Linked DNA regions of Homo sapiens. The protein of the gene in region 1 purifies or fractionates together with the protein of each later gene. This does not show direct contact. Each region holds a gene or a part of one and is shown in the gene's direction. Other genes may lie near its edges. The genes, in order: NKAIN1, TMEM63B and LRRC8D.

What was found.
Region 2: the proteins of NKAIN1 (region 1) and TMEM63B purify together in Homo sapiens (affinity purification with mass spectrometry; one large-scale study listed by BioGRID and IntAct). This does not show direct contact.
Region 3: the proteins of NKAIN1 (region 1) and LRRC8D purify together in Homo sapiens (affinity purification with mass spectrometry; one large-scale study listed by BioGRID and IntAct). This does not show direct contact.

The regions. Positions count from the first base shown.
Region 1 is NC_000001.11:31,229,739-31,233,389, reverse strand, and holds part of NKAIN1 (sodium/potassium-transporting ATPase subunit beta-1-interacting protein 1 precursor), read left to right. Parts: intron 1-3,651.
Region 2 is NC_000006.12:44,133,953-44,137,603, forward strand, and holds part of TMEM63B (mechanosensitive cation channel TMEM63B), read left to right. Parts: intron 1-467; exon of another isoform or gene 468-608; coding exon of another isoform or gene 609-632; coding exon 633-791; intron 792-1,064; coding exon 1,065-1,144; intron 1,145-1,375; coding exon 1,376-1,414; intron 1,415-2,396; coding exon 2,397-2,487; intron 2,488-3,651. UniProt on the Homo sapiens protein: Mechanosensitive cation channel with low conductance and high activation threshold. Osmosensitive cation channel preferentially activated by hypotonic stress.
Region 3 is NC_000001.11:89,932,432-89,936,082, forward strand, and holds part of LRRC8D (volume-regulated anion channel subunit LRRC8D), read left to right. Parts: intron 1-635; 5' UTR 636-637; coding exon 638-3,214; 3' UTR 3,215-3,651. UniProt on the Homo sapiens protein: Non-essential component of the volume-regulated anion channel (VRAC, also named VSOAC channel), an anion channel required to maintain a constant cell volume in response to extracellular or intracellular osmotic changes.

The DNA.
Region 1 (3,651 bases):
GCAGGTGGAGAAATCCAAACCTTTCCTCAGCCACAGGGCTTGTTACCAGATGCCAGATCTAACTGCTTACACAGATGCCCCCTCTCCCCATTCTACCCACCCCCAAGCTCTGTGCTGGACTTAAAAGAGCTGTGATGCACGGCTGGGTGCGGTAGCTCACACCTGTAATCCCAGCACTTTGGGAGGCCGAGGCATGCAGATCACTTGAGATCAGGAGTTCGAAACCAGCCTGGCCAATGTGGTGAAACCGCATCTCTACTAAAAATACAAAAAATTAGCCGAGCGTGGTGGTGGGCACCTGTAATTTCAGCTACTCGGGAGGCTGAGGCAAGAGAATCATTTGAACCTGGGAGGCGGAGGTTGCAGTGTGCCAAGGAGCTGTGATACAGATTGAGAAAACCAGGGAATAAAGTAACCTGTATCTACAAGTGATCCATCCTCATAACAACTCTATGAGATAGGTGTGGTTTTTATACCCATTAACTGATGGACATACTGAGGCTCAGAAGGGTAAAATGACATCTCTCCAAGGAAACAGGAGATAATAGTCTGAGCCTCAGAGTAGTCATCAAGGGGAAAGGGTTTGAGAACAATTGTTATAAAATCTGGACCAAGCAGAGATAGTCAGCTCTGATCACTGGAACATGTTGTCTCCTCTAGTCAGTCCTTTTATTTTTTATTTTGTATTTTTTTATTCTATGTGGTAGGAGACTCCCAAACTACTCTTCTCTAGTATTAAGGAGAGATGGGTGACAGGAAGGCAGACTAAGGCTACAGGTGTATTTTTAAAAACTAGTTCCAGGCCAGGTGCGGTGGCTCACACCTGTAATCCCAGCATTTTGGGAAGGCAAGGTGGAAGGATCGCTTGAGCCCAGGAGTTTGAGACCAGCCTGGGGAACATAGTGAGACCTCCCCCACTCTCTCTCTCTCTCTCTCTCTCTCTCTCTCTCTCTCTCTCTCTCTCTATATATATATATATATATATATATATATGAAGTAGGCCAGACACGGTGGCTCATGCCTGTAATCCCAACACTCTGGGAGGCTGAGACAGGTGGATCACCTGAGGTCAGGAGTTCGAGACCAGCCTGACCAACATGGTGAAACCCTGTCTCTACTAAAAATACAAAATTAGCCAGGCATGGTAGCTCATGCCTGTAATCCCAGCTACTCGGGAGGCTGAGGCAGGAGAATTGCTTGAACCTGGGAGGCAGATGTTGTGGTAAGCCAAGATCACGCCATTGCACTCCAGCCTGGGTAACAAGAGCGAAACTCCGTCTCAAAAAAAGAAAAACAAAAAGGTAAAAACTTAGCTGGGCATGGTAGCATGCACCTGTAGTCCCAGCTACTGAGGCAGAGGGGAGGATTGCTTTTGCCCAGGAGCTTGAGGCTGCAGTGAGCCATGATTGCACCACTGCCCTACAGCCTGGGCAACACAGTGAGATCCTGTCTCAAAAAAAATTAAAAAAAAAAAAAAAGCTAGTTCCAGCCAGGCACAGAGAGACAAACTTCAGATGTTCTTACTTATTTGTGTGAGCTAAAAATTAAAACAATTGAACTCGCCAGGTGCAGTGGCTCACGCTTGTAATCCCGGCACTTTGGGAGGCCAAGGCGGGCGGATCACAAGGTCAGGAGATCGAGACCATCCTGGCTAACACTGTGAAACCCTGTCTCTACTAAAAATACAAAAAATTAGCCGGGCGTGGTGGCGGGCGCCTGTAGTTCCAGCTACTCGGGAGGCTGAGGCAGGACAGTGGCATGAACCCAGGAGGCGGAGCTTGCAGTGAGCTGAGATGGCGCCACTGCACTCCAGCCTGGGTGACAGAGCGAGACTCCGTCTCAAAAACAACAACAACAACAACAACAAACAACAACAAAAACAATTGAACTCATGGAGATAGTGCGTAGAATGAGGAGGTTGGGCACTGTGGGTCACGCCTGTAATCCCAGCACTTTGGGAGGCCAAGGTGGGTGGACTGCTTGAGCTCAGGAGTTGGAGACCAGCCTGGGTAACATGGCAAGACCCTGCATCTATTAAAAAAAAAAAAAAAAAAAGTAGAATAAGGATTACCAGAGGCTGGGAAAGGTAGTCGGGGAGTGGGGAGGTTGTATAAAAACATGGTTAGATAGGATGAATAAATCTTGTCTTTGATAGCACAACAGTGTGACTACAGTCAACGAAATTTACTGTACATTTAAAAATAACTGGATGGTGCAGTGGCTTACACCTGTAATCCCAGCACTCTGGGAGGCCGAGGCGGGTGGATCACTTGAGGTCAGGAGTTTGAGACCAGCCTGGCCAACGTGGTGAAACCCCATTTGTACTAAAAATACAAAAAATTAGCTGGGCATGGTGGCGGGCACCTGTAATCCCAGCTACTCAGGAGGCTAAGACAGGAGAATCACTTGAACCTGGGAGGCGGAGGTTGCAGTGAGCCAAGATCGTGCCACTACACTCCGGCCTGGGCAACAAGAGCAAAACTCCGTCTCAAAAAAAAAAAAAAAAAAAAATAACCCAAAGAGTATGATTGGATTATTTGTAACACAAAGAAAGGATAAATGCTTGATTTACCCTGATGTGACGATTGCACAGTGGATGCCTATATCAAAATATCTCATGTGCCCCCTAAATATATATACCTACTATGTAACCCACAAAAATTAAAAATTAAAAACATTTTTTAAATTGAACACTAGATCCAGGCCATGGGGGGAGAGCTGGGTTTAGGCCCAGGAAGCCAAGTCCCAGTGCTTTGCCTGGCTTTCCCTGCCCTGGCCTGGAGAGGGATGTCGATTGATTCACAGATGAGGGAGAGCTTCAGAGAGCAAAGCAAACTTCCCCTAGAGGCACTGAATGAGCAGTAAGGTTTTAGAAGAGCCGTTAAGTGTGGTTGCAGGTTTTCCTGATTTACATTGGCCTCCTGGCCCCTCTCAAAGCAGCTGACAAATCCAGAGACAAGGAGGTGGACTGGGAACTGGGAAGAACCCGGGCTTTGGGGTCAGGCTGGGATTTGAGTTCCAGCTTTGCCTCTTTGTAGCTGGATGACCTTGAGCAAGAAGACACCTAACCTCTCTGAGCTTCCACTTGCACTTCTCTAAATCAGGATAATGATCATCTACTTCAGAGAGTTGTTGGGAGGCTCCTTTGAAATAAAACGTGTGGAGTGGGAGCTCACAAAGGGGGTACACTCTTGAATGCCCAGGATATGAGGCTGCAGGTTCTGCAATCCGAGTACTGTGGGGTAGGAAATGAGATGACTCCCCTTTCTCAATGAATGGAAGGCTCAAGCTGGAGCAGCAGTTCTTCTTCATCTGTGTGGTCTTGGCATTGCTGGACCGTGGTCTTCTCTTCTGTAAAATGGGAATAATAATAGCACCCACCTCATAGGACTATAATGAGGGCAACCTGAGATAATGCAGGGAGAGCCGTGGGCACAGGCTGCCACTCACTAAGAGGGGTTCCAAGATGAAGGCGTGGCCTCTTTGGGCCTCTCTCTTGCTCTGTATGGGGAAAAGGTTGGACTCATCATCTCAAAGGACCCTTCCAGCTCTGAGTCAGTAATGAGCTCCTTCTCTTCCCAGGTGGAGGTAAGAGGTGCTGCCTGGCCCACCTTGTTGCAGGCAGTGGTGACTGATGGAGTGTCAGGGCCT
Region 2 (3,651 bases), on another chromosome or scaffold:
CTCAAACCCAGAAGTCCTACTATTTACTTGACTTCCTACTCTGACCCATCGTCGAACCTAAGCCAGTTATATTGAGTTCAAAACTCTAACCAAATGAAATCATGCCATTTTTTCTAATAGGCATAGAAAGAAAAGATCAGGATGAGGCAGCTGGCTCCTGACCCATTCTCCCCTGACGTGGAGACCCCTCATCTTACCCTTGAGTCCTCAGGCCTAAGACCCCTCCCTGTCTTCCCAGGCTCAGCTCCGCCCCCTGCCCTAAGACAGAGAGAATGAGAGTGTGGGGGTGGCGGCGGCAGGGGGGATTTAGATAGATGTTAGAAAATCACAGATACCTTCCAGCTTAATGAAACCAGCCTCCCCAGTCCAGGCCTGGCATCTAGACTGAGTTCCCCAGACCCAGGGTGGGGTCATAGCCAGAGAGCCAGTGAAGGTAAATCCATGTGACTCAACTCTCCCCTCCCTAGGCCCTTATCTCCAGAGGCCAGAGCTTCCATCCACCCAGGCAGCCTGGTGATCTGTCCTCACTGCCCCCTCCCCACGCCCACCCTACTGGGCCATGAAGGGGATGGGGGCAAGCCCAGCTGACTGCTCCACCCTCTGCCCAGGAGGACCATGCGGCAGTAGCAGCCATGCTGCCCTTTCTGCTGGCCACACTGGGCACCACAGCCCTCAACAACAGCAACCCCAAGGACTACTGCTACAGCGCCCGCATCCGCAGCACTGTCCTGCAGGGCCTGCCCTTTGGGGGCGTCCCCACCGTGCTGGCTCTCGACTTCATGTGCTTCCTTGTAAGTGCCTGCTGCCACCCCTTACCTTGGCATCCATGCCCTGTACACACCTGGCAAACACTTCCAGCTCTAACCACTCTCCCACCTGCCCCGGTTTCCCAGGCTTAAGCAGGAGGAGTCCCCATCATCCAGCCCAAGCCTCGCCTTTGACCATTCACCCAAGCCAGGGTCATCCCCTTCTAAGACAAGATTTTGGACCCTCTGCTTCTGCCCCCTAGTCCAGCAGGTGGACAGACAGCCTCTGCACTTGCCAACTGCCCCCTCTTCCCTCAGGCACTGCTGTTCTTATTCTCTATCCTCCGGAAGGTGGCCTGGGACTATGGGCGGCTGGCCTTGGTGACAGATGCAGACAGGTAAGGGTCTGGGACCCTCCCTCTAGCTCTCCACACACACATCTTGTTCCACACTCCTCAGGAATAGGAAGGAGCCAGCCCTCTCTCATTCCCCTTTGCTGGGGGGATGAGAAGGGACTAGCCCCAATGTGGGCATGGGGGCATGAGGGCCCTAAGTTGGGCCCCTGTTCCTCACCTGTCCCCAGGGACTCTCCCCCGCCCCTGCTAACCCTGTCTGTTCTCTGTCCCCAGGCTTCGGCGGCAGGAGAGGGACCGAGTGGAACAGGAATAGTATGTGGGGCACCAGCCCCCTCATTCCCACTAAACCAGCTTTCCCTTTTCTTCTCTCACGCTTCTCTTCTCTTCCTGCCAAGTTGCTGGTTTCTTTTTGCAGTTTTCTCCTCTGCAGGCTCATGTTTCGGATTAACGCAGGCGGTGTGCTTTGCAGAGCAGGGGGCTCCCCAGCTTGTCTCTGCCTCACCTCCCCTTCATCTCTCCCTCTGGCTCCCTGCCTGGGAGAAGTCCCTCCCTGTGTGCCCCTGCCTATGCAGCCCTTGTTGGCTGGAGGGGAGGGGCTGTCCTCCAGGAAATCCTCAGCACAATCACGTAGAGACAAGATTGGGTGTCACCAGCAGCTTCTTGTCCGCTAACAGCTAGTTCTTCATATTCCAGGGTTCCCTGCTCACCTCTTCTGGAGGCCTGGGAGGAGGGCTGCCCAAGGAGCCCCCCAGTCTGGGCTTTTTTGTCACTTTGTCATCTCTGTCTATAGGATTGGAGTTGGAGTTGTAACAGCTGTTGGAGTCAGGGAAGAGGGAGGGGAGCGGAGGGTAGGGTCCCACCCAGGAGACCTTCCAGTCTCCCCAGCCCTTCCAGGTTCTCCTGGTCCATCCTTTCCTCCACCTCCTCATTGCTCTTTGCATAATGTTGGCTCCGTTGCCCGCCCCCGGCCCCTGCCAGTCAACTCTGGAACTGCAGGGCCCTCTGGCATTCTCGCTTCAGCCTCCTTAGGGAGATGATGAAGATTACCTCCTCCCTCAAGTCCCCACTGCCCACCATCAGTGCCCACCTCCGCTCCCACCCTGAGTCCCCCTGAAAGGAAGAGGCATATTTGAGGGAAGCAGGGTAGAGGGCAGTCATTCCTCTCTGCTTCAGCCTCTGCGCTTCCTGTGCCTTCTGTGCCTTCTGTAGCCCTGGAGCTCTGGAGCACTCAGCCCAGCTTCCCGGGGGCTCAGACTCACCAGGCTCTCTGATCTCTCATCTCCCTCACCCCCAGTGTGGCTTCAGCTATGCACGGGGACAGCCATGACCGGTATGAGCGTCTCACCTCTGTCTCCAGCTCCGTTGACTTTGACCAAAGGGACAATGTGAGTGCCCTCCCCCCAAACTTCTTAGTCCCCCACCCCACCCCCAGGGCACATGGGCTGAGAAGTCCCTCACTTTCAGTGATGTGGAGTCAGGGATGCTGGTTTGGCCTCCTCCTCAGCAAAGAAAGTGATTCAACCAAGGAGCCACAGGATGACCCCCCAGGCCCTGAACTCCTGGCTGCTGTCCTCTATGTCACAGTCTCCAAACTAGCACAGCCTTAACATTCATGAATTCCCAACTTTGTTTGCCATAAAGAGTTTTGTGCCCACTTCTGCTGATTAATCCTAAGGCCACCTTTTTTCCGTAGTCATGGTTTTAGAAATAATAATAAGCCCTTGGCTCACGCCTGTAATCCCAGCACTTTGGGAGGCCGAGGCGGGAGGATCACGAGGTCACTAGATGAGACCATCCTGGCTAACACGGTGAAACCCCGTCTCTACTAAAAATACAAAAAATTAGCCAGGCGTGGTGGTGGGCGCCTGTAGTCCCAGCTACTTGGGAGGCTGAGGCAGGAGAATGGCGTGAACGCGGGAGGCGGAGCTTGCAGTGAGCTGAGATGGCGCCACTGCACTCTAGCCTGGGTGACAGAGCGAGACTCCATCTCAAAACAAACAAAAAAAAGAAATAATAAGCCCTCCAGCCCTGCCTAGAAAAACAGAATCTGTCATGTTGCTCGGAGGTTGCAGGTGGGTGGCCCCTGGCCATGTGGGGCCGGTTGACCTGCTTGTGGATTGGAGCTGAGTGGCAGTGGTCCCTTTTAACAAGGCATATGAATGGCAATTCATAACAGACTCCAGACCCCTTTCATATCAGACCTAACACACAGGTGTTACCTGCCTGGCTCTCCATCATTAATTCCATGAGGGTAAGGAGCCTAGTCAGAACTCTAATCCTCAGACATGGTGTGGCCCTGGTCAGTCCCTCTTGGGCTGCAAGTCCTAGGGGTGGCAGCTCTTCCAGCAATTCCAGCAGAAGATGGCCTTCAGCTTCCTGAGTTGGACTCATACTGGTAGGTGGCAAAGTTGTCACATCTGCTAGCCAGAAGTGTCCAGATGGTCCCCAGACTCAGGTGATGTTGGCAACAGGTAGCATGGTCCTGAATCACGGCCGAAAGGCACCTTTCTACCCCATCCTGTGTTATGTCTGGACCTTCTGCTGGATGG
Region 3 (3,651 bases), about 59 Mb from region 1:
GGACACTTCCACCAGAGTGATTGGAGCTAACGTAAACAGCTAACAAACACTTGTGGCCAGAGGATGTGCTAAGAGCGTTACAATCATTACTTAATTTAACCTTTCCAACAACCCTTAGAAGTTTTCATCCCTATTATACAGATGGGAAATACACAAGGCTTAAGGAATCAACCATTAGTAAGTGTTAGAACTAAGTCTGGAACATAAGACTATCCAAAGTTTAACGGTATTTAATGGTATACACAGACCTTTCAATTTTGGCTTATACAAAATAAGAGTCATCCCACTCCTTGACCTCCAAATTTCAGTCTTAACCTTTAATGAGTCCACAACAAATGCCATCCTGCTGTCATACCCTCCTTCAAGGTCCACTAAGTAACCACTATGGACTTGGTGCAGTCTGTCATAATTTCTTACCTAGAATGCAATTCTTACTCATTCTTTCCCTCTTCCCTTGCACTAGGAGAGAAAAGCTGTATATTCCCCTTTTAGTTTATTTTCTACTACATTTATATTGGATAAAAAGATAGGACCTGAATGAGAAAACTTTAGTTAGGAGCAGGCATAGGGTTTTTCTCATTTACTCTTTTCATTTGCATCTCTAGAATAATGTCTTTTGTCTTCTTGTTTTCTAGGAATGTTTACCCTTGCGGAAGTTGCATCACTTAATGACATTCAGCCAACTTACCGAATCCTGAAACCATGGTGGGATGTGTTTATGGATTACCTAGCTGTTGTTATGTTAATGGTAGCCATCTTTGCAGGAACCATGCAACTTACCAAAGATCAGGTGGTCTGTTTGCCAGTATTGCCATCTCCTGTAAATTCAAAGGCACATACACCACCAGGAAATGCCGAGGTCACCACCAACATCCCAAAGATGGAAGCAGCCACCAACCAAGACCAAGATGGGCGGACAACAAACGACATTTCCTTTGGGACATCTGCTGTGACACCTGACATACCTCTCAGAGCCACATATCCTCGCACAGATTTCGCACTTCCAAATCAGGAGGCAAAGAAAGAGAAGAAAGATCCAACAGGTCGAAAAACAAACTTGGATTTTCAGCAATATGTATTTATTAATCAAATGTGTTACCATCTGGCCCTTCCGTGGTATTCTAAGTACTTTCCATACCTAGCTCTTATACATACTATTATTCTCATGGTCAGTAGCAACTTTTGGTTCAAATATCCCAAAACATGCTCAAAAGTAGAACATTTTGTTTCAATATTAGGAAAGTGCTTTGAATCCCCTTGGACGACAAAAGCGTTGTCTGAGACAGCATGCGAAGACTCAGAGGAAAACAAGCAGAGAATAACAGGTGCCCAGACTCTACCAAAGCATGTTTCTACCAGCAGTGATGAAGGGAGCCCCAGTGCCAGTACACCAATGATCAATAAAACTGGCTTTAAATTTTCAGCTGAGAAGCCTGTGATTGAAGTTCCCAGCATGACAATCCTGGATAAAAAGGATGGAGAGCAGGCCAAAGCCCTGTTTGAGAAAGTGAGGAAGTTCCGTGCCCATGTGGAAGATAGTGACTTGATCTATAAACTCTATGTGGTCCAAACAGTTATCAAAACAGCCAAGTTCATTTTTATTCTCTGCTATACAGCGAACTTTGTCAACGCAATCAGCTTTGAACACGTCTGCAAGCCCAAAGTTGAGCATCTGATTGGTTATGAGGTATTTGAGTGCACCCACAATATGGCTTACATGTTGAAAAAGCTTCTCATCAGTTACATATCCATTATTTGTGTTTATGGCTTTATCTGCCTCTACACTCTCTTCTGGTTATTCAGGATACCTTTGAAGGAATATTCTTTCGAAAAAGTCAGAGAAGAGAGCAGTTTTAGTGACATTCCAGATGTCAAAAACGATTTTGCGTTCCTTCTTCACATGGTAGACCAGTATGACCAGCTATATTCCAAGCGTTTTGGTGTGTTCTTGTCAGAAGTTAGTGAAAATAAACTTAGGGAAATTAGTTTGAACCATGAGTGGACATTTGAAAAACTCAGGCAGCACATTTCACGCAACGCCCAGGACAAGCAGGAGTTGCATCTGTTCATGCTGTCGGGGGTGCCCGATGCTGTCTTTGACCTCACAGACCTGGATGTGCTAAAGCTTGAACTAATTCCAGAAGCTAAAATTCCTGCTAAGATTTCTCAAATGACTAACCTCCAAGAGCTCCACCTCTGCCACTGCCCTGCAAAAGTTGAACAGACTGCTTTTAGCTTTCTTCGCGATCACTTGAGATGCCTTCACGTGAAGTTCACTGATGTGGCTGAAATTCCTGCCTGGGTGTATTTGCTCAAAAACCTTCGAGAGTTGTACTTAATAGGCAATTTGAACTCTGAAAACAATAAGATGATAGGACTTGAATCTCTCCGAGAGTTGCGGCACCTTAAGATTCTCCACGTGAAGAGCAATTTGACCAAAGTTCCCTCCAACATTACAGATGTGGCTCCACATCTTACAAAGTTAGTCATTCATAATGACGGCACTAAACTCTTGGTACTGAACAGCCTTAAGAAAATGATGAATGTCGCTGAGCTGGAACTCCAGAACTGTGAGCTAGAGAGAATCCCACATGCTATTTTCAGCCTCTCTAATTTACAGGAACTGGATTTAAAGTCCAATAACATTCGCACAATTGAGGAAATCATCAGTTTCCAGCATTTAAAACGACTGACTTGTTTAAAATTATGGCATAACAAAATTGTTACTATTCCTCCCTCTATTACCCATGTCAAAAACTTGGAGTCACTTTATTTCTCTAACAACAAGCTCGAATCCTTACCAGTGGCAGTATTTAGTTTACAGAAACTCAGATGCTTAGATGTGAGCTACAACAACATTTCAATGATTCCAATAGAAATAGGATTGCTTCAGAACCTGCAGCATTTGCATATCACTGGGAACAAAGTGGACATTCTGCCAAAACAATTGTTTAAATGCATAAAGTTGAGGACTTTGAATCTGGGACAGAACTGCATCACCTCACTCCCAGAGAAAGTTGGTCAGCTCTCCCAGCTCACTCAGCTGGAGCTGAAGGGGAACTGCTTGGACCGCCTGCCAGCCCAGCTGGGCCAGTGTCGGATGCTCAAGAAAAGCGGGCTTGTTGTGGAAGATCACCTTTTTGATACCCTGCCACTCGAAGTCAAAGAGGCATTGAATCAAGACATAAATATTCCCTTTGCAAATGGGATTTAAACTAAGATAATATATGCACAGTGATGTGCAGGAACAACTTCCTAGATTGCAAGTGCTCACGTACAAGTTATTACAAGATAATGCATTTTAGGAGTAGATACATCTTTTAAAATAAAACAGAGAGGATGCATAGAAGGCTGATAGAAGACATAACTGAATGTTCAATGTTTGTAGGGTTTTAAGTCATTCATTTCCAAATCATTTTTTTTTTTCTTTTGGGGAAAGGGAAGGAAAAATTATAATCACTAATCTTGGTTCTTTTTAAATTGTTTGTAACTTGGATGCTGCCGCTACTGAATGTTTACAAATTGCTTGCCTGCTAAAGTAAATGATTAAATTGACATTTTCTTACTATATCACCTTTTTTGAGGGGTCTTAATTTACTTTGCTTAATTGGTGCAATATTGCTTTAACTCCGTTCACTAAAGACAAACACA